6 separate regions of the Homo sapiens genome follow, and all the other regions are reported to be linked to region 4. Evidence: microRNA targets listed by miRTarBase, many of them from high-throughput screens and not tested one by one. Region 4 holds a microRNA gene; each other region holds the end of a gene's coding sequence. Distances are from middle to middle.
Evidence for each region. The annotated mature microRNA hsa-miR-590-3p reads UAAUUUUAUGUAUAAGCUAGU and lies in region 4 at 1,540-1,560, shown strand. An mRNA with a match to its seed (bases 2 to 7 or 8) in the 3' UTR can be bound and repressed. Matches are read on the target gene's strand: a 7mer-m8 pairs with bases 2 to 8, a 7mer-A1 pairs with bases 2 to 7 and ends in A, and an 8mer does both.

Region 1: miRTarBase lists DCAF7 as a target of hsa-miR-590-3p. Seed matches in the 3' UTR shown: 7mer-A1 at 1,621-1,627 and 7mer-A1 at 1,304-1,310.
Region 2: the mRNA of NCKAP1 is a reported target of hsa-miR-590-3p. Seed matches in the 3' UTR shown: 7mer-A1 at 3,089-3,095, 8mer at 3,076-3,083, 7mer-A1 at 3,055-3,061, 7mer-A1 at 1,829-1,835, 7mer-m8 at 1,547-1,553, 7mer-m8 at 336-342 and 2 more.
Region 3: miRTarBase lists SEMA3D as a target of hsa-miR-590-3p. Seed matches in the 3' UTR shown: 7mer-m8 at 2,302-2,308, 7mer-A1 at 2,638-2,644, 7mer-m8 at 3,418-3,424 and 7mer-m8 at 4,027-4,033.
Region 5: the mRNA of MXI1 is a reported target of hsa-miR-590-3p. The part of its 3' UTR that is shown has no 7-base or 8-base seed match.
Region 6: the mRNA of GGCX is a reported target of hsa-miR-590-3p. Seed matches in the 3' UTR shown: 7mer-A1 at 4,055-4,061 and 7mer-m8 at 2,781-2,787.

Annotation. Positions count from the first base shown.
Region 1 is chr17:63,588,803-63,593,878 of GRCh38, reverse strand. It overlaps DCAF7 (DDB1 and CUL4 associated factor 7), which reads right to left. Exons shown (of 7, transcript NM_005828.5): 7 at 1-4,879. The coding sequence ends at 4,707. Among named protein-coding and RNA genes, the nearest start is that of TACO1, 9.6 kb to the left of the region's middle.
Region 2 is chr2:182,921,609-182,926,684 of GRCh38, forward strand. NCKAP1 (NCK associated protein 1) reads right to left here. Exons shown (of 31, transcript NM_013436.5): 31 at 1-4,210. The coding sequence ends at 4,094. Among named protein-coding and RNA genes, the nearest start is that of FRZB, 58 kb to the left of the region's middle.
Region 3 is chr7:84,995,367-85,000,442 of GRCh38, reverse strand. SEMA3D (semaphorin 3D) reads left to right here. Exons shown (of 19, transcript NM_001384900.1): 19 at 578-4,890. The coding sequence ends at 1,003. Among named protein-coding and RNA genes, the nearest start is that of SEMA3D, 190 kb to the left of the region's middle. RefSeq lists an enhancer at 1-996.
Region 4 is chr7:74,189,714-74,194,789 of GRCh38, forward strand. MIR590 (microRNA 590) reads left to right here and starts at 1,485; the gene lies at 1,485-1,581. It overlaps EIF4H (eukaryotic translation initiation factor 4H), which reads left to right. Exons shown (of 7, transcript NM_022170.2): 3 at 1-24; 4 at 109-205; 5 at 534-593; 6 at 5,028-5,076.
Region 5 is chr10:110,283,970-110,289,045 of GRCh38, forward strand. It overlaps MXI1 (MAX interactor 1, dimerization protein), which reads left to right. Exons shown (of 6, transcript NM_130439.3): 6 at 855-3,396. The coding sequence ends at 1,018. Among named protein-coding and RNA genes, the nearest start is that of SMNDC1, 18 kb to the right of the region's middle. RefSeq lists an enhancer at 1,416-1,917.
Region 6 is chr2:85,545,471-85,550,536 of GRCh38, forward strand. It overlaps GGCX (gamma-glutamyl carboxylase), which reads right to left. Exons shown (of 15, transcript NM_000821.7): 15 at 1-4,656. The coding sequence ends at 4,464. Among named protein-coding and RNA genes, the nearest start is that of MAT2A, 8.8 kb to the left of the region's middle.

The sequences.
Region 1 (5,076 bases), not on the chromosome of region 4:
AGGCTAAAGGACACAGAAATGGATCAGTTAGAGCTTAACATTTCAGAGCAAGAAATCTCCATTTTCTACATAGAGGTTTATACAATCATGCTACAAATTCACTCTGGGTGGGGTGGGGAAGGAAGGTCACTGACAAGAGGGGTAGTAAAATACACAGGAACCAAAGCAAGTGAGTCAGACTCAACTAAATCGATTCAAAGCTTCAGCTCAACAATTTTCATAACACATGGTATACCACAATCAACCCAAGGTGAGAACATTTCTTTTAAATAGTAGATATCACATGTTCATAATCACTGGGTTGTCCCAAAGGTGGGTGCCTATAAACTTTCCAGCTGTTACATAGACTGTCAACATCTTTCTTCTTGAGTTTAAACTTTCTTTAGCTTATTTGTTTCTCGTTGGATATACCAGTCCAAGCCTCTTTGGGAAGGCACCTGCATGTTTCCATATTTTAAAAATGACATCCAGAAAGTAGCCTGAGAGGACCTGGCCCATCCCATGTGGCCACACATTTGACTTTGACCATTAGCAGCAGTGACACTGTGAGAGGGGGAGAAGGTGCAGGTGGGTGAAGTGGGCAAGGGTCTGCAACACGAGACGCTCTCAGGAGCTGGCCCAGCCAGGGCCTGGCCCAGGGTTCACAGTGACTTTGCTCTGCTCCGCCCTCTTCCCTGGGAAAACCAATCTAAGTATCAAGCATGATCTTCCTTCTTCGTCCTGGAGTACACACAGTAAAGGGAAAAGTCTGCTTTGAGGCTTCTACTTCAATGGTCTCCCCTACCCCAAGCCAGGAATGAAAGGGGCTGCCATATTCTCAAAGTGGGGAAGGCAGAGGGACAGTACTGGGCTGCCCTCCCACGTGTGGTAAACCCTGCAGCTGCTACATGTCTTCACAGCCCAGGAATTCAAGGCCCAGGTGGCAGCAGGAAGAAACAGTGGAAAAGCAAGGGGAAGAGAAAAGAGAAAAAGGAGGGGGAAAGTCTGCATAACTGTCATAACCTCTGCTTCTCCTGCTCTGTAACAAACCCACAACCAGGAAGAGTCATGGTCTGGAACAATCATGGGACCCCAAACGCCTGTAGGTTTTTTACCACCAAACATCACCCATGGCTGCTCTAAGCTGTCATTTTGTTCCCACAGTTACCTAGCATCACGGATGCCCAATTTATGGCCCAGGAAGGCTGACCCAGGCTAAGGGCAGTCTCACTCCACAGCCATGCAATGGACAGTCTGAATGTTTCCCTACCCCAGACCTTCACTGACCTCTACTATTTCCTCCTCTGATATAAAGAAAACACTTTAATTTTCTCCTGCATCCTACATCTCCTCCTAAAATTTTGGCCCTAATTGTCATCAAAACCTTGTAGGATTCTGAATTTTTTGTTTCTTCCTGAATCTTAGCCAGTTCTCTCAGAGCCAATCCTGGATTTATAAGGAATTTTCACCTATTTTTTTTTTTTTTTTATTTTTTGAGACGGAGTCTTGCTCTGTCGCCCAGGCTGGAGTGCAGTGGCACGATCTTGGCTCACTGCAAGCTCCACCTCCCAGGTTCACGCCATTCTCCTGCCTCAGCCTCCCAAGTAGCTAGGACTACAGGTACCCGCCACCACCCCCGGCTAATTTTTTTTTGTATTTTTAGTAGAGATGGGGTTTCACCATGTTAGCCAGGATGGTCTCGATCTTCTGACCTTGGGATCTGGCCACCTCAGCCTCCCAAAATGCTGGGATTACAGGTGTGAGCCACCACACCCATCCTCGCCCAGTTATTAAATACCTTCCCTCTTCAAGTCCTAACCTTGCAGGCTAATTCCTCCCTGGAAGAAGAGGATTCCAATGCTCCTGAGCATAAAAAATTCAGGTCCTTGAATGACGTGGACCCATTCTCCAGCTCTCTGGTGGTAGAGGCCTGAGGCCTAATTTATTCAGCACCTCCATCCTTCAGTCAGAACAGATGAGGACAATACAGGCAGCTGTGCCTCAGGCTGCCAGGAGCAAAAGGGCCATCACCAGCTGGGCCACAGCCTGGCGGAGCCTCCATGTGGGCTTCCTGCTAAAGTCCTAGTGGCTGCTCCTCCCGCAGTCAGGGAGAACAGATCCAGGGCCTCCCACCCAGTCTCGCTGGCTGTCAGTTTGAGAACCTCAACAAATTACAGAGTTGTTTTTGCAACTACAACAGATCGGTGCTTTCTGGAGCATGGATGGCTTACAGACTTTCTAAATCCTGAGACTGTAGAAATCCCCTCCTCAGTCATGGGTCGTCGGGCTGGTGGAGTAAAGGGAGGGTAAGAGAGCTGGGACTCAAAGACCAGCAACTCATCAACTGTGAGTATGTGTGTGCTTGCTTAGGGGGGTGGAGTCCCCCTGGGTCCCCGGTGGCATTCAGGGGAAGACTGTACTGCAGGACCTAAGGAAGGATGACAGGAGCTGGGCGTCCACAGGGCAAGGGAAATCTCAAAAGTTGTTGGTTTCCAGAGTAAATAGCTATCTTATGCAAATATGTTCTAATTATTATTTTTTTTTCAAGTTGTTGTTTCTGAGTTCCAGCTGACAAATTCCACCATACAGACCAGGCGTAGGTGCAGATCAGGAAAGGAATCTTAGAACTCAGTGGATGTAAGCCCTGCCCAGCAGACCAGCCCCTTCTACCACTGACTTCCATTTCAGACCCTTCTCCACAGGAAGGAACTGATGGCCTCCTAAACAAGCAGCCATCAGCTTGGCCTTGCTACCCTTGAGAGAAGGACCCAGTAACCATTATCAAACACAATGAAAAGCAGAGGAGGGTTCTGACCAAGAACTGCTCGCTTTGTATCTCCAAACGATGCAGTGCAAATCCAGTGGCAAATGCAGGAGAGGCAACCACAAGCACATGGCCAGCCAGAGTCCTAAAATCAGAACAACAAAGTAAAAGGGTAGAAGGGGAAATATGCTGGCTAAAAAAAGAGCCTTTTTCTTTGGGACAGGTCCCTGTATGGTAAAGCAAAGAGCTAGACTTTTGGCATATAATGACATCTACTTCTGAAAAGGAAGACTTAACCAAAAAAGCTTAAGGGCCCAGAAGAACAAAGTTACTGTTTTACTTCTCAAGCAGGTGAGAACCAAAGAGGACAAAACCATCATCCTTCAGGCCTGCTACTCTACTAATCTCAGATGAGCAATTCAGAGGGACTTAAAAACCTTCGGGTAGGAGCAGAGCGCAAGGAAACAGCCAACTTTCCCCCAAGAGCACATCCCAAACTGCCTGCCCCAAGGGCTCATCTAACGGTGGAATCACACATATGCCCCTCCATGGAACTCATTCACATAACAGAAAGACACCTGCGGCCTGCAAGTCAAAAGACAACTGCAGGCTACAAGTCCAATACTGCTCAGAACCTAAACTGGGGGAGAGAGGGGTTGACAGGTGTGGGTAGAGCTCTTAACTGGCTGACCCTGGGGGTCTATAATTCCTTTTCCTTCTTTTTTTTTCCTCCCTTTTCATTACCCACAGTATAATGCTTTTTAACTATCTATCCACTTGACAGCCCAGGATTGCCGCAGTCCATCAGTCCATCTCTCATGTAAGGTCTTGTTCAGGGTTGGAAGCACAGACAGGATGCCTCGGGAAGACTCTCTCACCTCAGAACACTCAATCCAAAGAATGCCCAATATACCACCAGGCACAGTAAACTCAAACAACAGAAGCACCGAAGTTCAACTCAGATATCATTCTTGCCTATCATTGAAAAGACACTAAGTGGAATGGCCTGGGGCTTATATTTGGATGGAAAAACAGACTCTGAAAGAATGTACTGGAAATATGCTTGAAGTTCAGCTTCATGAAACGATTCCCCTCAAGTCAGGTACCCTGAGAGCCTGTTTCTCTCAGCTCTACCATGCTGCCAGTGGGAACCAATGGGCTGGACAGTGGTGCTTCAGGGTAAACAGAGGCTTCCTATGTCTGTTTACAAGCCCAGAATGCCCTTGAGAGGAGCCAGGCTAAGAAAGGTGTGATGAGTCAGTGGACTTCAGAGCACCAAGGTGGTTTGGACTCCCGGTCAGGTATGTACTACACAGGCAGTGACTCAAGAAGGCAAACTGCTCATGGGGCCAGGGGCCCAGTACCAGCTCCAGGCACTGAGGGAAGAGAAGAAGGTGCAAAGAGGGAGGACTATAAGACAAAGAAATGAAGCAGGAGAGTAAAATTCTTTTCATAAAAAAATTAGCCTGATAGATAACAAATATACAAAGTTAAAATTTGTTAAACACACTGATACTAGGAGAAAAGACAAATTGGTATTTGTTCCCACGTAAGTGCTAACACGAACATGGACATGGACGAGACATGAACTGCTGCCTTGGGCAGCAAACAGAGACACCTGGGCAGAGGAATAGACACAGCCAGTGCGTGAACTGCTCCTCAACACAACGCCTGACAAACAAATATACACACATTTTTTAATTGAGGAACCAAAGGAGAAGAGGAAAGGAGAGAAAATCTTAAAACTCAGCCCTGGGCTGAGGAGGCGCCACACAGCACTGAGTCTGCCACAGAGGGCGATGGGGTGACTGGCCAGGAACTCCTAGAGCAGCTTCTGGTAACAGTGGGTGCAAAGCAATGAAAGACATACTGGCCACTGGAAACATGTTTCTTCTTACTTTGGGGGTGGGGCAGAGGCAGGAAATACAAAAGCCCCTGCCTCGTGGGCACAGCGCCACCAACACTACACTCTGAGTATCTCCAGGCAGTTGTTGTAGCAGATGGCGATCCAGTCGGGCTGAGTTGATGCCCACTGCACATTGTTGATCTCTCCTTCAGCTGTGTAGGCCAGGATAGGGTCCTCAATGGCTCGGGGCATTTGCTGGATGTCCCAGATGAGAGCCTGGTGGTCATCCGCTAGGGACAAAGAAAGCCAGCAAGCAAGGTCACAAGTGAGGCAATGCGGATGATGATCCCTGCATTTCAGGAGCAAGTCACAGTTTACAAAGCACCCCCGTGATGGCGGTTCTATTTTAAGCCCCCATTTTATCGATGAGGAAATCGAGATTCAGAAATGTTAAGGCACTTGTTCCAAATCACACAGCTATTCAGCC
Region 2 (5,076 bases), not on the chromosome of region 4:
TGCACTTAAACCAGAAATGAGACATGGCCCTCTGTGGCTAGGATCCTAACTTCAGATTGCTAATTTATCCCATTTTACTTAGGCCCAAAATGACAGGCTGAATACTTTTATTGGAAATGAAACATTCCAGAGTTAGACATGTTTACTCTGGACAGTCAAGGACAGCGATGTGTAGGGAAAGTTTGGTTCATGCAAAAATGAATGAAATTTTAATACACTTAAAGTTACTTCTCACTCTGAAAATAATACCAAAGTAGAGTCAATAAATATTAAATTTCCTTCCAATTCCACAGGACCAATTAACGAAAAACATAATTTTTGTACTACAGAATAAAAATTTTAAAATCTCAAATATTTTTTCCCAAAGGCAGAGGTCATGGCAAATCTTCGGAGAAAGAGAGCATTTTGTCTATTTGAAAATTCAGGCTCAGGCCTTCAAATGAAATGATGGTTCATGCTGTCATTTCAAGTGACTACAAAGAAGAAATGAAAGAAAGATGTAAGGAGTCACTACTTTAAGGATTATTCACAAAAGTCTTAGGAATAATACAGGTGAAGTCTCAGAAAGGCAAGTCCTTATAACAGAATGGGCATGGATCATGTACTAATCAGTAGGTTACAATTCACTACCTTACAGAATTTGGGCTTCATTTAGAAGGCCTGATGGTGTACAACAGACTTTACATTTTCACATTAATGCAAGAGCCTATCAGTGAATTCATGTTCATTTCCTTTATTAACCAGCCTACATTAGATTTAATTTGTGAACTCTGCTATATAAGCAAAGAAGAAAGCAAGCAAGCACATGATCAGAAGAGAAAAAGAGCTAGATAGCCCATAAGGCTCCTAGAGGGAACTTGAGCACTCCTCATGACAGAGACACAGATGACACACTTCTAACTTCTCAAACATGCCAAGTTTGTGCTTGCCTTCTGGGTCTTTGCCTTTATTATTCCTCCCCTCAGCCCACTTGTGGTTCCTTCTAATCCTTCACGTACCAGCTCAAATGTTTTCTCTTACACAGATGACACTTTCTTCTAACACTTTCTTCTAAAGTAGTTTCACCACTGCCTCCCCACATTATCCTGTATACTTTCCAGTCACCATCAGAAGTTTGCTCATGGCTGGGCGTGGTGGCTCATGCCTGTAATCCCAGCACTTTGGGAGGCTGAGGTGGGTGGATCACCTGAGGTCAGGAGTTCGAGACCAGCCTGGCCAACATGGTAAAACCCCATCTCTACTAAAAATACCAAAAATTAACTGGGCGTAGTGGCGGGCGCCTGTAATCTCAGCTACTCAGGAGGCTGAGATGGGAGAATTGCTTGAACCCGGGAGGCGGAGGTTACAGTGAGCCGAGATCAGGCCATTGCCCATTTCCTGGGCAACAAGAGTGAAACTCCGTCTCAAGAAGCTGGTTTGTTTATTGTATACCATCACTAAAATCCAAGCTCAACTATAAAAGGGTCACCTTTTTGCTCACCATTACATGCAGGCATCTAAAAATACTTGCTTAAATAAGTGAATGAAAAAGCAGCAGAAAGGAAGCAATTTTACTTCTGAAAAATTATTCTAAAAAAATAACAGGTCAACTTTACCAAGATATAGATATACATTTATAATAATGAAAAGAAATTGTCTAAAAATCTATCCAATCTATCCAAATGAGTATTTTCTTTTTTTTTTTGAGACAGTCTCATTCTGTCATCCAGGCTGGAGTGCAGTGGTGTGATCTCAGCTCACAGCAACCTCCTCCTTCCGGGTTCAAACAATTCTTCCACCTCAGCCTCCCATGTAGCCAGGATGATAGGTGTGCACCATCATACCTGGGTAATTTTTGTATTTTTAGTAGTGTCAGGGTTTTGCCATGTTGGCCAGGCTGGTGTTGAACTCCTGACCTCAAGTGATCCATCCGCCTTGGCCTCCCAAAGTGCTGAAATAGGCGTGTGCCACTACGCCTGGCCATGAAATTGTTAAATTAGTTATGGTATCTATAAAGGTATTAAAAAGAATATTAAAGACATTTTTTCTACTACTGAGTGAAATAAGCAGATTACAGGCCAGTATGTATGGTATGATCACATTAATGTAGAGAAAACAACAAAAATAGTATGTTGTTGTGTAAGTTTAGAAGAAAATAAAACAAACAAGATATTAAAAATAGTAGTTGTCAATTTACTTTTAACTTTTTCCTCCAAGTTACCTTTGCCACGCCTCCTCCCCCGCCTTTGCTGTATGAGAAAAAATTTGGACAAAAACTTCAGGTGACTATGAGGAGCGATTTTTTTCTCAGCCTAGCAGTGGTAGAGAATGCCTTATTTTCATCCTTATGCCCTTTCACATATGATTCCAAAGTGTACATATCCAAATTCCTACTTTACCTCTCCAGAGATCACTGCCAACAAAGTTATTACCTCTCTAAGATCCTAATATTTCAAAACAAACGGCATTAAATCTTAGTTTTGACTGCTCACTGTGTAAATCAGACTATTTCAGGTCTGAACTATGCCATTTTAAAATTTCCCTTTTTAAAAAATCTTTATGGAACAAGTACAATTTTTCGACAGATAGTGACAACTACTCCCTACTTTAAATATAGGCTGGACAAATCATACACAAAATAATAGCATAATCTCATAGTACTTCAATTTCATTCTACTCTCTATGTTTGAAGAAAGAAAAACATTATAACTGAGTTCACAGCAGCCTTCTTTTATCTTAACACAAGTTACCAGTGTATACATAAGAAGCTGTGAACAGAAGCTCTTTATGATATTCATATACAAAGCTGCTGAGAAACAGCCTCAACAATGCCAATCAAAGAGCAAAACATTGGGTTAGTTTTCAAACTAAATGAGCTGCTTTGCCCTCCATGCCAACTATTAAGCAATAGGCCCTTTTATGTCTTTCCCATTCATTACTGACTAATGCAGCAGTTCTCAACATTCTCACTAGTCCCATGATCACTCAATTTTTTTTCCCTATTCTTTTAAATAACTCTATTTGGTTACAGATAAAATGAGCAAGTTGACAGCATACAAGTTTTCTTTAAGTTCTTAATTTTTAAGAAGTATTGTGTAATTTTATTTTCTAATTTTGGTATTTTTTTCAATAAAATGTTTTTTAAAACATTTAAACAAATCATATAATAGCTGACCTGGTATCGAATGCTGTACTTAGACATTCCTAAACCATTATTTTTTATATTTCAAACTAAGTTTAAACAAAAACTTTATTATTATTGAACGAATATCCAAGGATCTTAAAGAAATCAATCGAAGTGTGATACAGTCTAGTGTTTATTTTATGTTATGGCAGGTACACTTGAATTTCAAAAATTTAAAACATATATAAAAAGTGGTTAGGGACTAACATTTGTATCAACAGTTGATAAATGTCTAAGATTGTTTATTATACAGCAGGGTACAATGGTAGTGCTAATGCCAACAGGGCACCATGGAAGTTAGTCTAAAAATTATCGCTAGGCTTTATACAAGCAACAACATATGCTGCTGCTCTTAGAATTTTGGGAAATGATCTGCTTCTAATACTAAGCAGTTCTTTAACATTTTTAAATGTTATACAGTGTTACAGTATTTAGTTTGGCAAATGTTTCAAAATAAAGTAGAAATGTATTCATAACATCACAGAAATGCACATCCAATGTTGTTTTCAATAAGAACCATAGGTACAGATCAGAACTCTTCCCTATATGAAATAATTTACACACAGATGAATACTATAATATCACTATCTAAAATAATCACTAAATACAGTTCTTTTTCAGAAATAAACAAGCAAAGATTTTTTTCATTATCAAATATCAAAAACATGTTGATAATGTATGTTTTTCAAATAAATGATACTTTAAAATTATAGGAATAATCTCAGTGAATTCAGTGAATGTGCAACCTAAATCAACCAAGTATACTGTAGTACAACCATATTAAGAAACCAATGATCAGAAAATACAACCGTATGAAAGAAATTTATAATCCACAAAACTTTTTCAGGTCTTAAGGTAAAATAGTTCCACAGTCTACAGGTAAAACCAAGGCAACAAAAATGCGTGCTTATCTTGATTAAGTAGGTAATTTTATGCAGAAGATGTAACACTTTGTTTGTAGACAGCATGGTATGCATTTCTCAGCAAGACATAAGGAAAACAAGATTCCAAAAGATCCATTGTAAGGAATGGAGATTCTTGTACAATCTGTAAAATTCAAAAAATCCATCAAAACAAGTTATTTATAACTTGTTTATAAACAAAAATCATAAGTTATTTATAATGGGAACATTTATTGACAACCAGTAAGGCATAACTTCTATATTGTTCTTATTAGCAATAGACACATATTATTTTCCTTTTACTTAATCTAAAATGTAAATGTGCCACAGTGAATGTATATCAAACTGTTTAAAAAGAGCTACTTTTCAATTAAATTTATTTAATCAACAGGAATATATTGAGCACTTTCATTTTCCTCACTGATATACTAGAAATAAAAGACAATACAAAAATATTTTTTTTTTGTACTATCAACTCTACCTGGCAATCAAAGACTAAGCTAGGAAGCAAAACCAAACATAAGACCGACTATAATGAAATGGAAAGCTGTAAATTCTGTAAGAATTCAAAACAGAAGAAAGATTAATGTAGGCCAAAGTAATCAAGAAAGACTATCTGGAAAAAGATTTGAGCTGTGGGATGTGCTAAGTCATTAGGATAAATCCAATTTCTGCAGGTAAGGAAAATAACTCTAAGTGGGGAAAGAGCCACGTGGTAGAAACAAGCAAGAGCTGGTTCACAGATACTGCAGAGAGGGAAGTGACTAGGCACAGAGAATTACAGAAAATTACGAGAAATGGGCAGAATAGAGTTAGAATGTAGAAAACTCAGAAAACTGGAAGAGAGGTGACACCAATACACTAGAAAAATACAAGGCCTGAGTGTTTTCCAACAGGTTGAAAAACTGTTCATAAAAGAATACCCACAGTTAATGCTAACCTTTGATTGTTATCTTCTGATATTACCGAAATGATAAAATATGAGTGATGTCAGTCTTCTCTGCAAATTTT
Region 3 (5,076 bases), 11 Mb from region 4:
AGACGTCATCATTTATGGCTTTCATATGCTACTCACAGAACGTATTTGGTGATATCTGGAAAGCAGTAAATTCCACTTGGAATTATTGTTCTATTCTACATTATAGGTAGTAGCATGTACTGAAGCTCGTTTTCTATACAATGTGTTCTATACAATTGTAAATGTTGCATTCTTGCTCCACATTTCAGGTGCTAATTTATGATCTTGATACAGTAATTTGTATATGAAATCTCTGTAAAGAAGGCCACTTGATGGTTTCCAGTTTTTCATTACTTTTCACAGTTTTTCATTCCTATCTGCATATTGAGAGAAAAAAAATAACTGCATTCCAAAGGTTCAGTTAGACTTACTAAGATTCAAATGTGAAAAATTAAGGATATAGTTTGGGGGCTATTACTTTTGTTGAATTTTTTTACTCTTTTTAACTATGGCTGACAATATTATGCTTGATGACAGAGACAGAGAGACAATGAATATGTCTTTCATATTCATCTAAGTAAAACTATGTAGCCTGTTTTCATTTGCTCTTAGCTCTCTCTGTGTTTAATTTATTACCTACATTTTTCCAATTCTGCAGTTGAAGCCCGATGAAAGAATCATCAAAACGGAATATGGGCTACTGATTCGAAGTTTGCAGAAGAAGGATTCTGGGATGTATTACTGCAAAGCCCAGGAGCACACTTTCATCCACACCATAGTGAAGCTGACTTTGAATGTCATTGAGAATGAACAGATGGAAAATACCCAGAGGGCAGAGCATGAGGAGGGGAAGGTCAAGGATCTATTGGCTGAGTCACGGTTGAGATACAAAGACTACATCCAAATCCTTAGCAGCCCAAACTTCAGCCTCGACCAGTACTGCGAACAGATGTGGCACAGGGAGAAGCGGAGACAGAGAAACAAGGGGGGCCCAAAGTGGAAGCACATGCAGGAAATGAAGAAGAAACGAAATCGAAGACATCACAGAGACCTGGATGAGCTCCCTAGAGCTGTAGCCACGTAGTTTTCTACTTAATTTAAAGAAAAGAATTCCTTACCTATAAAAACATTGCCTTCTGTTTTGTATATCCCTTATAGTAATTCATAAATGCTTCCCATGGAGTTTTGCTAAGGCACAAGACAATAATCTGAATAAGACAATATGTGATGAATATAAGAAAGGGCAAAAAATTCATTTGAACCAGTTTTCCAAGAACAAATCTTGCACAAGCAAAGTATAAGAATTATCCTAAAAATAGGGGGTTTACAGTTGTAAATGTTTTATGTTTTGAGTTTTGGAATTTATTGTCATGTAAATAGTTGAGCTAAGCAAGCCCCGAATTTGATAGTGTATAAGGTGCTTTATTCCCTCGAATGTCCATTAAGCATGGAATTTACCATGCAGTTGTGCTATGTTCTTATGAACAGATATATCATTCCTATTGAGAACCAGCTACCTTGTGGTAGGGAATAAGAGGTCAGACACAAATTAAGACAACTCCCATTATCAACAGGAACTTTCTCAGTGAGCCATTCACTCCTGGAGAATGGTATAGGAATTTGGAGAGGTGCATTATTTCTTTCTGGCCACTGGGGTTAAATTTAGTGTACTACAACATTGATTTACTGAAGGGCACTAATGTTTCCCCCAGGATTTCTATTGACTAGTCAGGAGTAACAGGTTCACAGAGAGAAGTTGGTGCTTAGTTATGTGTTTTTTAGAGTATATACTAAGCTCTACAGGGACAGAATGCTTAATAAATACTTTAATAAGATATGGGAAAATATTTTAATAAAACAAGGAAAACATAATGATGTATAATGCATCCTGATGGGAAGGCATGCAGATGGGATTTGTTAGAAGACAGAAGGAAAGACAGCCATAAATTCTGGCTTTGGGGAAAACTCATATCCCCATGAAAAGGAAGAACAATCACAAATAAAGTGAGAGTAATGTAATGGAGCTCTTTTCACTAGGGTATAAGTAGCTGCCAATTTGTAATTCATCTGTTAAAAAAAATCTAGATTATAACAAACTGCTAGCAAAATCTGAGGAAACATAAATTCTTCTGAAGAATCATAGGAAGAGTAGACATTTTATTTATAACCAATGATATTTCAGTATATATTTTCTCTCTTTTAAAAAATATTTATCATACTCTGTATATTATTTCTTTTTACTGCCTTTATTCTCTCCTGTATATTGGATTTTGTGATTATATTTGAGTGAATAGGAGAAAACAATATATAACACACAGAGAATTAAGAAAATGACATTTCTGGGGAGTGGGGATATATATTTGTTGAATAACAGAACGAGTGTAAAATTTTAACAACGGAAAGGGTTAAATTAACTCTTTGACATCTTCACTCAACCTTTTCTCATTGCTGAGTTAATCTGTTGTAATTGTAGTATTGTTTTTGTAATTTAACAATAAATAAGCCTGCTACATGTAAAAAGAACCAAACTCACAATATTAACATAAACATCTTTCATATTTTGTTAGTACTTTCAAATGTTTTCAATTTGACTTTCCCTCTGAATATGCATGGTGTGTTTCCTGTCTGTTTAAGCAGAACTCACCTTTCCTTCTTGTAACACAGAACCCTTAGCCTTCTTCTGTTTTGCCTTTTCACGCCCTTTATAGTGTGAAATGAAAAATTAGTCACTTCCTCACATGGAAGGCAGCTTTTCAGAAAATAACAGACATTGCTCGTTTCTCATGCATTCTACATATCTTGAAAGAAAAGTCTGTGAGAAAACCCTGTGATTAGAGGGCAACTTAATGCAAGATCTGTGGCTCTATGTTGAGAGCATTCTCTCTCTGTTATTTTTATTTTATTTGCATTGCTTACCTATCTCAAAGTAGTCAAACTGATATATGAGATTGAGTACTCCCTTTTGATATTATACTGATGAATATTTGTAGGTGTTTCACTATAAGGAACAGCTAAGGAATAATTTTAATAAAAGTGAACCAGAACAAATCACTCATTTAAAAAGTAATTCAGAAGAACAGTGTGGCATGATCAGACTTCTAATTGAATAGCGTAACAACAGTGTTTGTAATTATAGATTTGCTTGGACAAAATATTCCAGGAACTCATAGCGAGCTCAAAGCAATTAAGTGGGAACATTTTTAATTTAAAAAAAATTTCCAAATATTTGTGGGTCCGACAGTAATGATCAAAATATGAATGACTTTGGAAAATTTACATGAAGCTCAAGTGTTAGGATTGACTTATGAAAATAAATTTTATTTCTATCCAAATTTGAATGTCCAAACCATTTTTTAGTTACTTCTTTCTAATCCTAGTTATTCAGACAAAATTTGGAAACTTATTTTATGACCACATCTAATATTCTGGCTGCTTTGGATACAATACTCTTGATTTATGATAATTAGTTAAAATATATTAAAAATATTATTAGTAAAATAAAATTTCACACAATAAAAAACAACATAGAGTACACATATTTATATGTATTTTTAAAGATAAAGAATATCTAAAATGTGTTTTTTTCTTAGCTTTTTAGTTGTCTAGAACATTTAGAGAAAGAGTATGAATATATTAAATCCACAAACACACTATATACTTCCTCACCACTGACTATTTTATCAAATTTGCCTTAAAATAATGAAAAAGAAAAGTATAGTTAATGGTTTCAAATATGCTAAGAAATTGACTCTGCGGAGGGGATCTTAAAATGCCTGTTTACTCATGTTTTCGTATTTTTCTTGTCTCTAATACTTTTGTCTTTGTCTGCCTTGTGTGTTCTTTTCTGAATTTCATTTCAGCAATTTATGCTGCTAAATAGAATCCCGCATGTCTGCATTCATTTACATTCAACTTATTGTAAATTTTGAGATTTTATTTAGAAATGAATTGTCTAATTAATTTATGTAGAGTCCTTTTTTCCAAAGAGCTCAAAACACTACATCCACATTATTGACTTTTGGAAACCAACCAAATTACTTAAGAAATGGAAAAGTAGTCACAGAGAAATTTAGTAATTTGCAAAAGCCACAACAGTAGTGGAAGAATTAAAATTCATAAAGTCTCATCATTCTGTTGGCTAAAATAATGCTCTTTACAATATGCTGGCTACAAAATGGTCTTACTCTTGAATTTTGCTTTTGGTTCATATTTTGGTTCTTCATATTCTAGTATGTTTTGTTCCTGCTGAATTTTACAGACTCAGCTAAACAATAAGTTATTAGTAGTCACTTGTTTTCATTATCATAATTGAATTTCCAAGAACAACTTGATATCATTCAGCTGTCCAAAAAATAATAAGAGCATTCATTAAATACTGATTTTCTTAAACTTAAATGTTGTATTTCATATTTATTTATATAATACAAATGGAAATCAAAACTGAAATAGCCTCCCTTTAGAATGTCACATTTTTCTTAGAAAACATTTTGGAATTGGTTAACCTTATTGGGAATGGATAATTTAGAAACAAACCAAAAAAAAAAAAAGATATTTGAAGTGTTTTTATAGGAGATGTATTTTTATCATAGTAAATGATCACAATTTTAAATAATTCATCTTACAAGTCAGGTAAAATAAAATCGATTCCCAGATTCCATACATTAGGAGTGCAAAGACAGGATCATACACATGACTTATACCTCTCATTTAAATATTTTATAGTATAAAGTATTTATGGAAAGGGTTTGAGATAGATGATTTTTGGGAAAGGGCAAAATGTGTCAGATGCCCTAGTTAATCATGTAATTTAATTCTGGTATTGTGAGTGGTTAGCAATCAATTTTGAATTTATAATTCTGCTATTTTAAAAGAAATGTAGTCTTGTAGTATGAAATAATTAAAAATTGTTAAATGTATATTTTGGTTGTATTATAATAAAATGCAAACATGACTGTTCTATGATTATAAAAACTACTGGTTTGTGTGCAAATTTTGTTTTCAAACCCCAAATACAGTAAATTTTATATATAAAATAGGACTAAAGAAAATATAAGATGCAATATTTTCTGAAATGTTCAGTAGATGTATTTTACACTGTAAGTATGCAGTAATTTCATTTATGAAAGAAAAGAATGTGTCCCACCCAATTTGATACCA
Region 4 (5,076 bases):
GAAGCCTTGACATACGATGGTGCAGTAAGTATCCTCGGGTTTTCTCTGTCATAGCAGTTGAGATTGTTTTCTTTGCCAATACTTACACTATTTTCCCTTTATCATTAGCTGTTGGGCGATCGGTCACTTCGTGTGGACATTGCAGAAGGCAGAAAACAAGATAAAGGTGGCTTTGGATTCAGAAAAGGTGGACCAGATGACAGAGGTGATTGGTTCTTCTAAAGCTGAACATCATAAAGATTTGCAGTATGCCTACCAATTCCAACTCGTGAACGTTCCTAGTAGAACTCGATTATCTCATAGGTGTGATAGGTTCTCGTGAGCTCTTAAAAGTTTGCGTAAAATCCTAGAAAGAATGGCTGATGCTTCTGCAAGCCTGGCGTTTTTTGTTTTCTGTTGGAAGCAAAAGCTCTTAAAATGATTTCATTGAACCTTCCATCACTTGAGTTGTATGTCTTCCAAATGAATTTTTCCATGTTTGCGCAGCAAGGTAATGACACGACCTCAACTTTATCTTTTTTGTGTATCCTCAGGAATGGGTAGCTCTCGAGAATCTAGAGGTGGATGGGATTCCCGGGATGACTTCAATTCTGGTATCAGTATTTAAAGTATCACCACTTAATTTTTCCTAGGAGCCTTGCTGCTGTTCTCTGTTTCTTACGAGTAGCCCGCCTGGCCGGACTACTTATTTAGTTCCTTTAACAAATACAACTCTCCTGCAGGGTGCCCAGGCATGCAAGTAAGCCTCTGTTAGAGCCTGTGGGGGCAGGACTTGAGCCCCATGCACCTTGTGTGGTCACCTTTGTTAGCCTGCAGCTCCTTGGATGTGTACGGGCCTGGGTCCTTGAGCTCGCTCAGCAGTCTTTCTCAGACTCTAGCCCAGGGAAACTCCTCTGTGGTTTTGTGTATGGCACCAAGAGAAGTACTGTTCCTTCTGGAAAACATAGGATAGAGGTTTGGGTTCTTACATGGTGAAAGGTAGTCCTGATGGCCCTTTTTTTTCTTGGAGGATTGTGGGGAGGTCCAGTCCCTTGATGGTGGACCTGATGCACTTCGCCGTTCTCTTTCTTAGCCAACCCAGGCAGAGCAGCTGGTGGTATAGCACAAAGCATCAGTCCACACGCCAGGCCTCTGCCCTGCAGGGTGATTTTAAGCATTTTTATCATCTTTACTTTCTGTTTTTAAATTACAAAAGTATAATTTTTTATATATGCACATGATAAAAACTTCAGTTGTAACCCAGAAAGGTAGGAAGAGAAAAACAAATTTGTTTTCTTTCCCGCAAACTTGGGATGTGCTGTCAATGCTGTGCTGTATAGAACGTCAGCACCCTCCCCCCATCAAAACAAAACCGGTGTAAAGTAGTGGGTGAGTATGGGAGGGACTGGTGCACGCTGTCTTGTGAGTCTGAGATTTTTAAAAACTCAGCTTTGGCTGAACAGGTGACGACTACCTGTTGAATAATATAGTTCTTAAAAGTCCTGTAGCCAGTCAGAAATGAGCTTATTCATAAAAGTGCAGTATGGTGAAGTCAATCTGTAATTTTATGTATAAGCTAGTCTCTGATTGAAACATGCAGCAGCTGTCTTCTTAGAGCCAACCAGCAGCTCAGGGAACGGCCTTTCCCCTGCCAGTTTGGTATTCGCAGGTGTTATAGAAGTTGCCCACATACTAACGTCTTTCTACCCTTGGCTTAGCTTGGCCACTGGCGCTCAAGCAGAGACACAGTGAACACGGCCATGGCCTGGCCGCCACCAGTTCTGGTGGGAACTGCAGTGTTTTGGTGACATCTCAAACCCTATGTGGGCTCACTCGATGGAGTAATGGCTAATTTGATACTTTATACGTTATTTGCGAGAGTAGATCTTTTTTACTTTTTAATAGGATGGTGCTATTTTTTTTAATGATACCTGCTCATGTAAAAAACAAAATAGAGCAACAGAAAAGTACCAAGAAAGCAAAAACATTTCATCATCAGAAATAGCCAGTGTTAAACTAAGCTTTGTAAAGAAAACTCTGAAGATTCTCATGAATAGTTTGCTTCCTAGAAACCCACCAACAGATTTTTTGTTGTTGTTTTTTTTGAGACGGAGTCTTGCTCTGTTGCCCAGGCTGGAGTGCAGTGGTGCGATCTCGGCTCACTGCAAGCTCTGCCTCCTGGGTTCATGCCATTCTCCTGCCTCAGCCTCCCAAGTAGCTGGGACTACAGGCACCCACCACCACGCCCGGCTAATTTTTTGTATTTTTAGCAGAGACGGGGTTTCATCATGTTAGCCAGGATGGTCTCGATCTCCTGACCTCGTGATCCACCTGCCTCGGCCTCCCAAAGTGCTGGGATTACAGGCATGAGCCACCGCGCCCGGCCCCCACCAACAGATTTGATGAGAGATCCTTGTTCATCTGCTTCACCAGCGTGGTGTGAGCTATTTGTTTCACGCTAGACATTGGTGGTCGAAATCATTTAATCTCATAGTAAAGGGTGTAAATTTACTTTGTACTCACGTGGAAAGGTACACTTCACAGTTTAGTTTGGGGGAAACGTGAAGTTAAATGTTTTAATACTAACTAGGCTTGTTCACTGAACTGTGTAATGTGGGTAAAATACTTTGTAAAGGACCTTATACTCGACTGTATGCCTCCCAGTGTATTTCCCCTAAAGCAGTGCTCTTATTGGTCTAAATCTGTTCAGACTTGCTTTCATTACTTGGTTTGTTAAAATTTATTATTTAACTCAGTCTCTGAACTGGGTGTGAGATCCCTTGGTTTCCAAAACCCTTGCCACCTTTAAAGAATAGAAATCGGCCCCCACCACAGGTGATGCAGTCAGCGCTTATCATTGGAGGTGGTTCTGTGGAGTTGCTAGAACACTGAATGAGCCCGTGCGGTGCTGCTCCTGTGTGCTACAGATCACAACATTTTCGTCAGCTGATCATACCTAACATTGCTTTATGTGACTTTTTTTTTTTTCTTTTTTTTTTTTTTGAGACAGAGGCTCACTCTGTTGCCCAGGCTGGAGTGCAGTGGCATGATTTCGGTTCACTGCAATCTCCGCCTCCAGGGTTCAAGCGATTCTCCTGCCTCAGCCTCCCAAGTAGCTGGGATTACAGGCGCACACCACCACACCCAGCTAATTTTTATATTTTTAGTAGAGACGGGGTCTCTCCGTGTTGGTCAGGCTGGTCTCGAACTCCCAGCCTCAGGTGATCTGCCCACCTCTGCCTCCCAGAGTGCTGGGATTACAGGCGTGAGCCACCACACCCAGCCTATGTGACCTTGATTTTAAAGACGCCTCATTTAATGTTAGTGTTGATTCATTTAATAGTGTTAACATTGAACTCAGGGCCAGCTGTAGTAAGTAGTCTGTGGTGCCATCATTTCAGCCTGTTAGAAAGCTCATCCCACACCGGTTTTGTCTGTAAGACACCTGACAGCCAGCCTGCACTTAAGAACAGCAGACAGCACTTCACACTGCACCTGGGGCCACTTCAGACAGCGATGTCACCAGAAAAAGCCCAAAGGGCAAAACACCCGACACTCATCGTGAAAAGACTTGACAGCTAATAACTGAAACAGGCAGAGCATTATCGTTTTCTGCCTCAGCTGGGATCGTCGCATCTGTGCAGGTCCAGGACTGACTGGAGAAATGCTGCTGGTATCTAGCTTGGGATTACACATGAATTTTAGCGACTGGGTGGATTTGCAAATATGGGATCTGTGGATAATGAGGATGACTGTATAGTGCATACTGCGGGCTCTGGGGGTTCTTCTCAAAGACAAGCTCCCTGAAAGCTTGGAGCCTTGGCACCACTCTCGCAGAGAGTAGCAGTGGCACCCCCTGAGTGCGCAACCAACAGCAGCAAGCTCATTTGTTTAATTATGGTTTAACTTCTTTTCGCCAGTTTTTTTTTTTTTTCCTTGAGACAGAGTCTCACTTCATCACCCAGGCTGAAGTGTAATGGCACGATCTTGGCTCACTGCACCCTCTACCTTCCAGGTTCGAGCGATTATCCTGCCTCAGCCTCATGAGTAGCTGGAACCCCAGGCGTGCGCCACCATGCCCAGCTAATTTTTGTGTTTTTTGTAGAGAGTGAGTCTCACTGTGTTGCCCAGTCTGGTCCTGAACTCCTATACTCACCTCCCACCTCAGCCTCCCAAAGTGCTGGGATTACAGGCGTGAACCAGTCTTTTTACCAAATTTTAACATCAGTAGGTTATACAGTTAAAGTTTAGCTTTCACTGAAGTACAAGCCTGAAGGCCCCTTAAGACCATTGAGAAAATACTCTTTCCTCCTACACACCAGTGGGAATTCAGCATTTCTAAATGAGATGCAGTTTACTTCTGCCAAGAGCCCACTTAGCAGGCACACAAATGAATGGGGAAAGAACGCTTTGCCCCCACAGGAGGCGCCGGTGGGGGTGAGGCGCTGTGCTCTCTGCTCATGCCCCTCTGTGTAGGGCATGGCCAATTTCGGATAACTGCTTTGTTTACCACACAGGTGCTTTGCTTGTAGAATGGCCCACACCTAAAACGCAGCCAAAACAGGAAAATTGGGACTTTGTGTTTTTATTTTGTCTTCATATAGCGTTTTCTTGTGATTTTTGTGTTCTGAGTTGTAAATACTTCTAAATTTCAGGTTTATCTTTTAAAATAGCTGTATAGATTTCTATTAGAAAATAGAGTTCAACCTGCTTTGAGGCTTTCTTGTTTTGCTTAAGCCGTATTAAAATACAGTTTCGTGGTATTAATATTTTTCTACTTTTCATGCAAGCTGAGCATGTAAACAGCTCGTTTGTTTGCTCTCCTAAGATCTTGATTCCTTTTTCTTTGGGAAGTCTGTTAGCGCTGTCATTACTCCACACATTGGCATTTGGACCCACTTTTAACACACTTTATTTTGGAGAGACTTCAGATAGTGGACAAACTAAAGAATTTAAAATGAAACTCAAACAATTCCCAGAACATTATTCTATAAGCAGCTTGGAGACGATAGTTTGAAAAGTAATTCAGTGTCCTGTTTCTTCCTCAGGCTTCAGGGATGACTTCTTAGGGGGCAGGGGAGGTAGTCGCCCAGGCGA
Region 5 (5,076 bases), not on the chromosome of region 4:
TTTGGTAGAAATGAGGTCTCACTTTGTTACCCAGGCTTGTCTCAAACTCCTGCACTCAAGTGATCTTCCTGCCTTAGCCTCCCAAAGTGCTGGGATTACGGACGTGAGCCACTGCGTCCAGCAACATTATCTATTGATAGCTGAGTCAAATATGTATTTGTGGTGTTTTTTTTTTTTAATGTTTGGCTTTTAAGTCTGTATACTACCACCAAAATGGATCTCACTATAATCTGAAGACTTTTAAGTCTCAGGCCCTTATTTCAAGCTATATTTGATGCAAGAAAATTAAATCTAAGACATATACCTCAAACTCTACTTTATAATGACTTGTTTGACTGACTAGTTGAAGATCTTTATGATGAATCCTAGAAGTCTGTTGAACTATCTGTAGAATGGCACCACCAAAGGCTTGGATGGGTAAATTTTCTAGTTTGCCTATATTAAGTTTATGCTCCTGCCCACCCTTTAAGGCAACCCTGATTAATAAACAGAACTGAGAATTAGTTTGTGGTTTAATGCAAAACAGATGTTTTTAAACCACTTGGGGGTTGGGACCTTTTAATATTAAGCACTAATTCCCAAATACGCCAAGTGCTTTAGGGAGGTCCAGACGGACTGGCGTCAAAGGATTTAGGAAATTTGCTGCCTAAATTAAGACCACCACTGTATATCAGACATTCCCCTTGGCAAAAAATATTCCTGTCTCTTCACCTTGTTCCTCTGTTCTCCAGACATCACTGATAATAAGCTTGTTGTGTAACATTTCTTATACCTCTTTTCCTCATGCTGTTAGTTTTTGAAGGTGCGCTATACTCGATAATTAATGTTCTTCTTTTTTTTTTTTCCTTTGGCAGAGGAGATTGAAGTGGATGTTGAAAGCACAGAGTTCTCCCATGGAGAAGTGGACAATATAAGTACCACCAGCATCAGTGACATTGATGACCACAGCAGCCTGCCGAGTATTGGGAGTGACGAGGGTTACTCCAGTGCCAGTGTCAAACTTTCATTCACTTCATAGAACCCAGCATGACATAACAGTGCAGGGCAAAATATTCACTGGGCCAATTCAATACAAACAATCTCTTAAATTGGGTTCATGATGCAGTCTCCTCTTTAAAACAAAACAAAACAAAACAAAACTATACTTGAACAAAAGGGTCAGAGGACCTGTATTTAAGCAAATACTTAGCAAAAAGTGGGGCAGAGCCTCCCAAGGAGAACAAATATTCAGAATATTCATATTGGAAAAATCACAATTTTTAATGGCAGCAGAAAACTTGTGTGAAATTTTCTTGATTTGAGTTGATTGAGAAGAGGACATTGGAGATGCCATCCTCTTTCTCTTTTCTAGTTTGCTCATACTACATTGAGTAGACACATTTAAGGATGGGGTTATGAACCCTTCCTGAGCTTTATGGTCCTAAAAGCAAAATAAAAACTATTCGAATGAAAAGACAAGAAAATCAGGTATTAATCTTGGATAGCTAATAATGAGCTATTAAAACTCAGCCTGGGACAGTTTATCATGAAGCCTGTGGATGATCAATCCTTTATTATTATTTTTTTTTTTTGAAAAAAGCTCATTTCATGCTCTGCAAAAGGAGAGACTCCCATGAAGCCTTTTGAAAGGGATCATCATGCAGCTCAACTTTCTGTTGGATTCCATGCTAAGCAAGCTAACCTTATCCTGCATTGTTAGCACTAGGCACCCAGCTGCCACCTCTCCATCCTGCTGCCCTTAGGCCACATGGGAGCAGTCCATGCATGACAGCCTCTATCCTACAAGGCCTATGAGTATGGATTGGGGGGGCCAAAAGGAAAAAGCTCCATGTGCCTCTTTGTCTGCGTGGGTCAGAAGAGTTGTGCACGCAGATTAGCAGGCCAAGGTCTGAGCCACAGCAGCATTTTTATTTCAGATTTTGATAACTGTTTATATGTGTTGAAAACCAAAATGACATCTTTTTAAAGCTTATCCATAAAAAAAAATAGATGTCTTTTATAGTGGAAAAACACATGGGGAAAAAAATCATCTATTTTGATGCAGCATTTGATAATGATAAAACACCTCACACCTCACTCTTTATAGTGCACAAAATGAATGAGGTCTGGGCTAGGTAGAAAAAGGGTCAATGCTATTTTTGTTTTTAGAATCATTACCTTTTACCAGCTTTTAACCATCTGATATCTATAGTAGACACACTATCATAGTTAACATAGTAAGTTCAGCACTTGTCTCATTTTAATGTAAAGATTTGCTTCCATTTTCCTACAGGCAGTCTCTCTCTTCCTCACAGTCCCACTGTGCAGGTGCTATTGTTACTCTTACGAATATTTTCAGTAATGTTATTTTCTTCTAAGTGAAATTTCTAGCCTGCACTTTGATGTCATGTGTTCCCTTTGTCTTTCAAACTCCAAGGTTCCCTTGTGGCCCTCTCCCTTACCCTGGGAAGGCCTCTTGGAGACCTTACCCCTGGCTGTTTGGACTTTGTATACTTTAAATAATTTAACTACCCTTAATTACTTAAAAAAAAAAAAAAGCTTTATGATTTTCATAACTTATTGCTGATTTTAATGGATTGTTAATTTCAGTCCTGTAGTTTTATTTTATGTTTAGATAGGGCTGGGCAAGGAAAAAGAAAATAAAGACAACCATATTTAGCAGTGCAGTTGAGTTGTGTGTTAATGTTAGACTATCCCTTTGTGAGTGACACTTTAACAGCATTCACTGCTTCTATATATAGTGTACCATCTTGGTCATACATTACGCCTCAACATATACTTGTGCTCTTCCTTTGCCTCCAGAAGAAGTTTTTCCTTGATTGTGCTATGTTTCAGTGGAAGAAATTCTTTGAAGTAGATGTGAGTGAAAAACTGCATGCCTTTAGAAGCCCAGTATCAGAACTTGCTACGTTTCAGGTGCTAGGGACTTAATGAAAAACAGGACAAAACAATTCCTTTTTGTGGCCCAGGTAAATTATTTCTGGTTTCACTTATAATTACTAATGGCTGAGTCAAGATGTTGTCTCTGTGTTTGCTTACTCTTGATCAAGTGTGAGACAGTTTGAAGACTGTGCTACCATACAAAGTGAATGAAGCCAGTGACTAAGCTTCTGTTTGTTTTGTTATTCTCATGGCCTTCGCTTGCATTATTTGGGCCTTCATTCAGATGAACTTGAGGTGCCATTTTGTTGCATATGTACAGGATTATGGGCTGGAAAGCATTTGTTATAAACCTATAGTGCACATTTTAACTGCCCCCTAAATTACCCTTCCCTGGGTTTGTTTTCCTTGGGGTGGTGTAGATTGTATGAGTAAGAAGTATTAATTTTTTAAAAGACAAATCAACTTTGAAGACACAAAAGTTAATTGGAAGAAATAAAAACTGTGAACGAAGAATACCTTTCTTTTTGTACCATCCTTCTTTATGAAGGCAAAAACATGAATGGGTATCCACACCTTAAGAGGTAACTATCTCCTAAATGTCTGTTGATACCAAATCAGTATCAATGCCAAATCAAATGGCAGTTTGAATTATAATTGCCATTCCTGTTCTGCAATTTAAACAGGAGCCTGACTGGTAACTCCATATAACCTAACTGCATGTGGTTTAATGTGCCACATTAATAATAATATTAACTGCCTCAGGTAGGACACAAAGCCATTCTCATGATCTGTTCTCTAAATAACTTTTGGGAGCATCCTTTAGCTACACTATTATTCAAATTGCAAACAAGTCTGGAAGTTCCACTAATCTTATTTAGGGTACCCTATTTATAGAACACCTGAGTGACATTTATATTAAAAGGTACAGGTAGGCCAGGTGCAATGGCTCACACCTGTAATCCCAGCACTTTGGAAGGCAGAGGTGCGCAGATCACTTGAGGTCAGGAGTTTGAAACCACCCTGGCCAACATGATGAAATTCCGTTATCCACTAAAAAAAAAAATACGAAAAATTAGCTGGGCGTGGTGGCATGCACCTGTAGTCCCAGCTACTCAGGAGGCTGAGGCAGGAGAATCTTGAACCTGGGAGGCGGAGGCTGCAGTGAGCTGAGATCGAGCCACTGCACTCCAGCCTGGGCAGCAGAGCGAGACTCCGTCTCAAAAAGGTACAGGTAAAACCTACTGTAGCGCGTTATGACTAGAGGATTCTGAAGTCACTGCAACTCAAGTTTCTGGTTAGAATAGGTATGAGAACTCCTACAGAAATGCCTTTCTAATCTCCCTGACAATGACTGCTTTTAGCATTATGAAGGAATTTTAAGAGGCAGTGAGGATTATTGAGGCAAAGTTGCTGACCAAAATCAGGTTCCCAACAGTTAACCCAGAACAGTAAAGTGTGGGAAAAGCAAGTGTTTTAATTACACTGTAATCCCAGTTCCAACATTGCTGACCCTAGTTAAGTTGCTTGATTTCTTCATGGAGCCCTTTTCTTCCTGAAAAGCTATTATAAGTACTACCTCTATCTTGAAGGGTTGTAAGGATTTAAGCTGATATATATAAACTACCACCCCACTCCCTGACTGCCATCTAGGAAGATGTAGCACTAAGGAAATTAAAAGGGGTGTATTTCTCTAGTTTCTCTGATGAATGCAACCTTTTAATGCATCCTTAATCCTGAATTTTAGTTACTTTGACTCCAGATCTTACAGAAAAAGACTGTTCCTAAATATTGGTTCACTTAAAATTCCATGGTAGGTAATACTTTAACATAAAGTAGTTATTTTTTATTTCCTATAGAATTTCTTTCTGTCACCCAGGCTGTAGTGCAGTGGTGTGACCTCGGCTCACTGCAACCTCCACCTTTTGGGTTCAAGCAATTCTCCTGCCTCAGCCTCCTGAGTGGCTGGGACTATGGCATGTGCCACCACACCCGGCTAATTTTTGTATTTGTTAGTAGAGAGGGCATTTCACCATGTTGGTCAGGCTGGTCTCGAACTCCTGGCCTTATGTGATCCGCCCACCTTGGCCTCCCGAAGTGCTGAGATTACAGGTGTGAGCCACTGCACCCAGCCTCCTATAGAATTTCTTAAATGAAGGCTTTATAAGATTAATGCAGCATCAGTTTTAGTGATTA
Region 6 (5,066 bases), not on the chromosome of region 4:
GAATAACCTGAGAATACTATATGTGTATCTTTAACCTTGAATTGTAATCCATAATTAGCCATAATTCAGGAAAATAACCTCAATCCCTAGACCCAGTGGGTGGGCATTTTTTAAAAGCCTAAGCAAGATTTAGTCCTCCTAGTCCACTTAAGCCAAAATTCATGTGTCCTTATTGCAGCAGCCATTCAATGCCATTTTTAAGTTTTCAACTAAGGTTGAGGGCTTCAAACCATTGAAGGCATAAAAACCGCTAAAAGTATTAACCTGGAAGTGGTAATGTCTATCTAAAGTCCTGGCAATTTAAGCCTATTAATCTGCATACATTTTTAAATTATGAGCTTAGTTTTAAGGGTTGTATGATGTTTTCATCTGAGAAGTTCTGAAACGTGATTTCTAGTCAATATCTTGCAGAGATAAATAATGCAAATTAGCTGAAAATGCTATAAATTTCCAAAGGCTTAAATTTCATTTATGGCAGGTTGTGTAGAAAATCCGCAGACCACACTGCTCTTGAACCTAGGAGCTACATGCATAGAGAATAGCCACTTGGATTACATTTCTACCAACATCTGAATGGTGGTCCAGCTTGTCCTGCAAATGTAGAGCCAAGGAGTGCTTGCTTATGCCTGTTTGCATGGAGACTTAAAAACTTGGAAATTTGGAGGCCAGGCGGAGTGGCCTGTAATATAGGCCACTATATAGTAATATAGGCGTGAGCCTATAATCCTAGCACTTTGGGAGGCCAAGGCATGCAGATCACGAGACCATCCTGGCTAACACAGTGAAACCCTGTCTCTACTAAAAATATAAAAAAGTTAGCCAGGCACCTGTAGTCCCAGCTACTCAGGAGGCCGAGGCAGGAGAATGGCGTGAACCCGGGAGGTGGAGCTTGCAGTGAGCTGAAATCGTGCCACCACACTCCGGCCAGGGTAACAGAGTGAGACTTAAAAAAAAAGCCGTGGAAATCTGGGTATGGTAGCTTACACCTGTAATCCCAGCACTTTGGGAGGCTAATGCGGGTGGATCACCTGAGGTCACGGTTTGATACCAGCCTGGCAAACTGAAACCCCGTCTCTACCAAAAATACAAAAAAGCTGGGTGTGGTGGCAGGTGCTTGTAATCCCAGCTACTCAGGAGGCTGGAGAATCACTTGAACCCAGGAGGCAGAGGTTGCAGTGAGCCGAGATGGCGCCATTGCACTCCAGCCTGGGCCAGAGCAAGGTTCCTTCTCAAAAAACTTGGAAATCTGTTGGGAAGTAGGGGGAGGGCAAGGTTAAAACCTATGCAGGTGTGTCAATTAGACTTGTTCCAACTTGAGAACCTGAATTTTGCATGTAATTGAAATGTTCCAGAACAAGTCTGGCAGTTTCATAAGGGAGTTTTTAGATGCCAATACATTGCAGATAACCATATTGGCTACATTAGGGGAATGAGCATGGATAGGTGCCTCCAAGTTGGTAGAATAGCATGAGAAGTTTTCAAAAGTAACCGCTTTAAGGTTATGTTCAGTATTTGCTAAGTAAACAAAGATTCCCCAACCTTGAGGGAGCTTGTGGACCAAGGGGATAGTGTTGTCCTGCCCAGCCTAGGGGAAAAGTATCCTGAAGGTTAATAAGGTGGTGGAGGAACATTAGGCCACAGGGAGCAGAGGGAAAGCATAACAGCAGGGGATGATAAGGGTGATTATAGTTTAGAAAGCATGAAAGTATGACTTAAGGAAATGTCTTTAGGTTGAACATTCTGTATATAACCTGCCTTTCTAAAGTTTCAAAGGGGATGGATACCCATCAGGGGCAAAGATCCAAATCCTGAGGGTAGAATGAGGAGGATGTATACTAAAGTCTTTTGGCTAAAAGGACATTGATAGCCCATTTTTAGAATGGCTACAGTTGCAACCCAACTCTACCCCACTGAACAGCTTTTATTACCAGTATTTACATGACCACTTTTTCTTTACACCTCACCCTACCCCAATATCTTCCTTGGGAAAATTGGTCAGAGAGGTGGTATACTAACAGTTTGGGGAAGGGCAGCATCCTTGCCCATATTTAGAAAAATACTTTTTCAAGTGTCTTCTCCCAAGTAACTCTTGGGACTTTTGTTACCAGTCAAGTAGGTACAGTGAGTTTGGCAAACAACATAGTGGCAAAGTATCTTCTATTGTGTTACTATGAGAGAAGATCTGCAAAAGGATTGAAAATCAGCATCCCTCCCACCCATTCTTACAAAGTAATCAGGGGACCCTGTGCCACAGCCATTGCTTGCCCATATAATACCTTGAATGAATTAGAGATTTTCCACCAAACTCCATTTGGCCTCCTCAGTGGTGGGGGAGGGTGGCAATCTGCTTGACAACTAACATGTCGGCCCTGTCCTGGTCTATCCCTAACTAGATGCTAATACAAAGGTTGAAAATACAGATATAGGTAGTAATGAAAACAGATTTGGCTGGGCACGGTGGCTCACACCTGTAATCCCAGCCCTTTGGGAGGCCAAGGCAGGTGGATACTTAAGGTCATGAGTTTGAGACCAGCCTGGCCAATGTGGGAAACCATGTCTCTACTAAAAATACAAAAATTAGTTGGGCGTGGTGGTGGGCACCTGTAGTCCCAGCTACATGGGAGGCTGAAGTGGAAGAATCGTTTAAACCCAGGAGGTGGTGGCTGCAGTAAGCCAAGATTGTGCCACTGAACTCCAGCCTGGGTGATAGAGTGAAACCCTGTCTTTAAAAAAAAATAGATTCAAGAGGTATCCAGGAGGTAAAATTGATGGGACTTGGCAATTTTAAGAAATGCAAGGAAAAAGGAAGAGTCAAGGCTGATGACCTAGAGATAACAGCTTGGCTAAGGTACAGAGCTGCCATTCAATAATAAAGAATAAGGAAGTCTGAGTTGGGGATGAATGTAAGTTCTGTTTAGGATGAACTGAGCTTGATAGCCCTGTGGGATATCCAGGTGGAACTTAGACCTATACGTCTAGGGCACAGGAAAGAAACCTAGCATCGTTGGAAATCCTGGAGTAGACACAATCATCTGAAGTATGTATACTGAAAAAGCAGTTGCTTAGGAAAGAACCCCCGGAACACTGTCCAAGGAGGAGTGGGGGAGAGTATGGGAAGAGAAGCCTGCAAAGAGATGCAATCATTTACAGAAGTTACTGAGACTGCCAATTTACTACCGGTCTCTGCTACAAGTCCATGAGCTCCCAAAGCAGGGATCCTTTTTCATAACCCTGCATTCTCGCTTCCTAGCTCAGTGCCAACCCTTTGAATTTTCACTGAACTGAGGAGCTTCCTGAGTTACCCTTGTATACCCCAACCTACAAAATGTCTAAGCATTCCCTAATCCCTTACTAAATTTAGTTAATTCTTACTTTACCTCCCCTTCTGCTCACCAAAGGCTAGAATAATACCAAATACTAAGCTTATTTTTAGAGAAAATCTAGCAATCATCTAGATTTCCTTATTTAACTTTGATGCTGCTATTCTGACTGCTCTCATAACTGCTAGTGAAACACTGGGTGTATATAGATAATAGGAACAAAGAAGGAACCAAAATTGCAATGAAGATAAATTACTTTGTGTGCATTTACAACCTGACCACCATCCAATTATACTTTTAATTAAGAAAACATGTTTTAAGCTGCATTATTTCAGATTATCAGTGATTCTGAAAATTACAAGTGGCAGGGTGCAGGACCTTAAGTCAAATAGACGTTAAGTTCAAACCATCAGTCCATTCGTCACTAGCTGTATGTCTTCGGGCAAATTATTTTACCTCTCAGCCTAATGTAATAATGCAGGTAACACTGCTCACGCGGTGTGTTGCACATAGCAAACACTTGGGAACAGTTAGCTATTCATCGTGGTACATTAAATTGCTTTTCCCCAAGAGCCACTTTATTTATTTATTTTGAGACGAAGTCTTGCTCTGTTGCCCAGGAGTGCAGTGGCTCGATCTCGGCTCACTGCAACCTCCACCTCCTGGGCCCAAGCGATTCTCATGCCTCAGCCTCCTGGGTAGTTGGATTACAGGCACCCACCACCACGTCTGGCTAATTTTTGTATTTTTAGTAGAGAAGGGGTTTTGCCATGTTGGCCAGGCTGGTCTCGAACTCCTGGCCTCAAGTGATCTGCCCACCTCAGCCTCCCAAAATGCTGGGATTACAGGCGTGAGCCACGGCACCCAGCCCCCAAAAAGCCACTTTAAACCTTATCCTAGGAGGACAGTTTCACATTGCGTCTAACCTCTTCCTGGCCTCTTAATCTTGGGTTGTTAAATCTTATTTGCTTTATTTCCTTGGTTCCTCTAAGTTGTAATCTCGGAGTTAAAAACAGCTTTAGAACCCCGCCCCCCCAAAAAAAAAAAAAAAACTTTTGAGAATTTTTTTCAAATAAATGTCCATTGCATAGAATGGGTCTGTGACTGGCTGCTTCTACATCTGCACCCAACATCTGGCCCCCTTCAGAACTCTGAGTGGACAGGATCAGGATTTGACTCAGGAGGATTAGAATGTGAAGAATCCGTGTTTGAGGGATTCAGTTCTCCAACTGCCTCAAAGGGTCTCAAGTTTGCATAAGTCACCTCCTGGGCCAGCTGCTCCAGGGAAGGACGGCCTAATATCAGATTTCGAAGTGAGATACAAGTCATCAGGAAGCTGAAAAACAGGAAAAAGCCGACCAAGTTCAAACTCCTGTTTCACCAGAAGAATTTCAGCTAAAGCCCTTAGAAGGCACCTGGTCCTCACTCCTCCCACACAGGCATATATGGGAATCTCCCCCCAAGTGACCCTCCATCTCCCAGCTGGAAGGGTACACCACTCTTTATACAGTCTGGTAGAGGATTCCAGGATAGGGTAGGAACAGCCCACAGAGAGGCTGGAGATAAGCTGAGGCAGAACAAGAAAGCAGGCCATCAGATATAGGCCACTTATTCTTCCAGTAAATCAAGAAGAATGGCAGGAAAAGATACCTAGAGCTAAACTGTCCTTTCCTGTATGACAGTCTCTAGAGTTACTCTCCCCAGGGGAAAGTTACCAAGCTTGCCAACATATGATGGCAATGACAA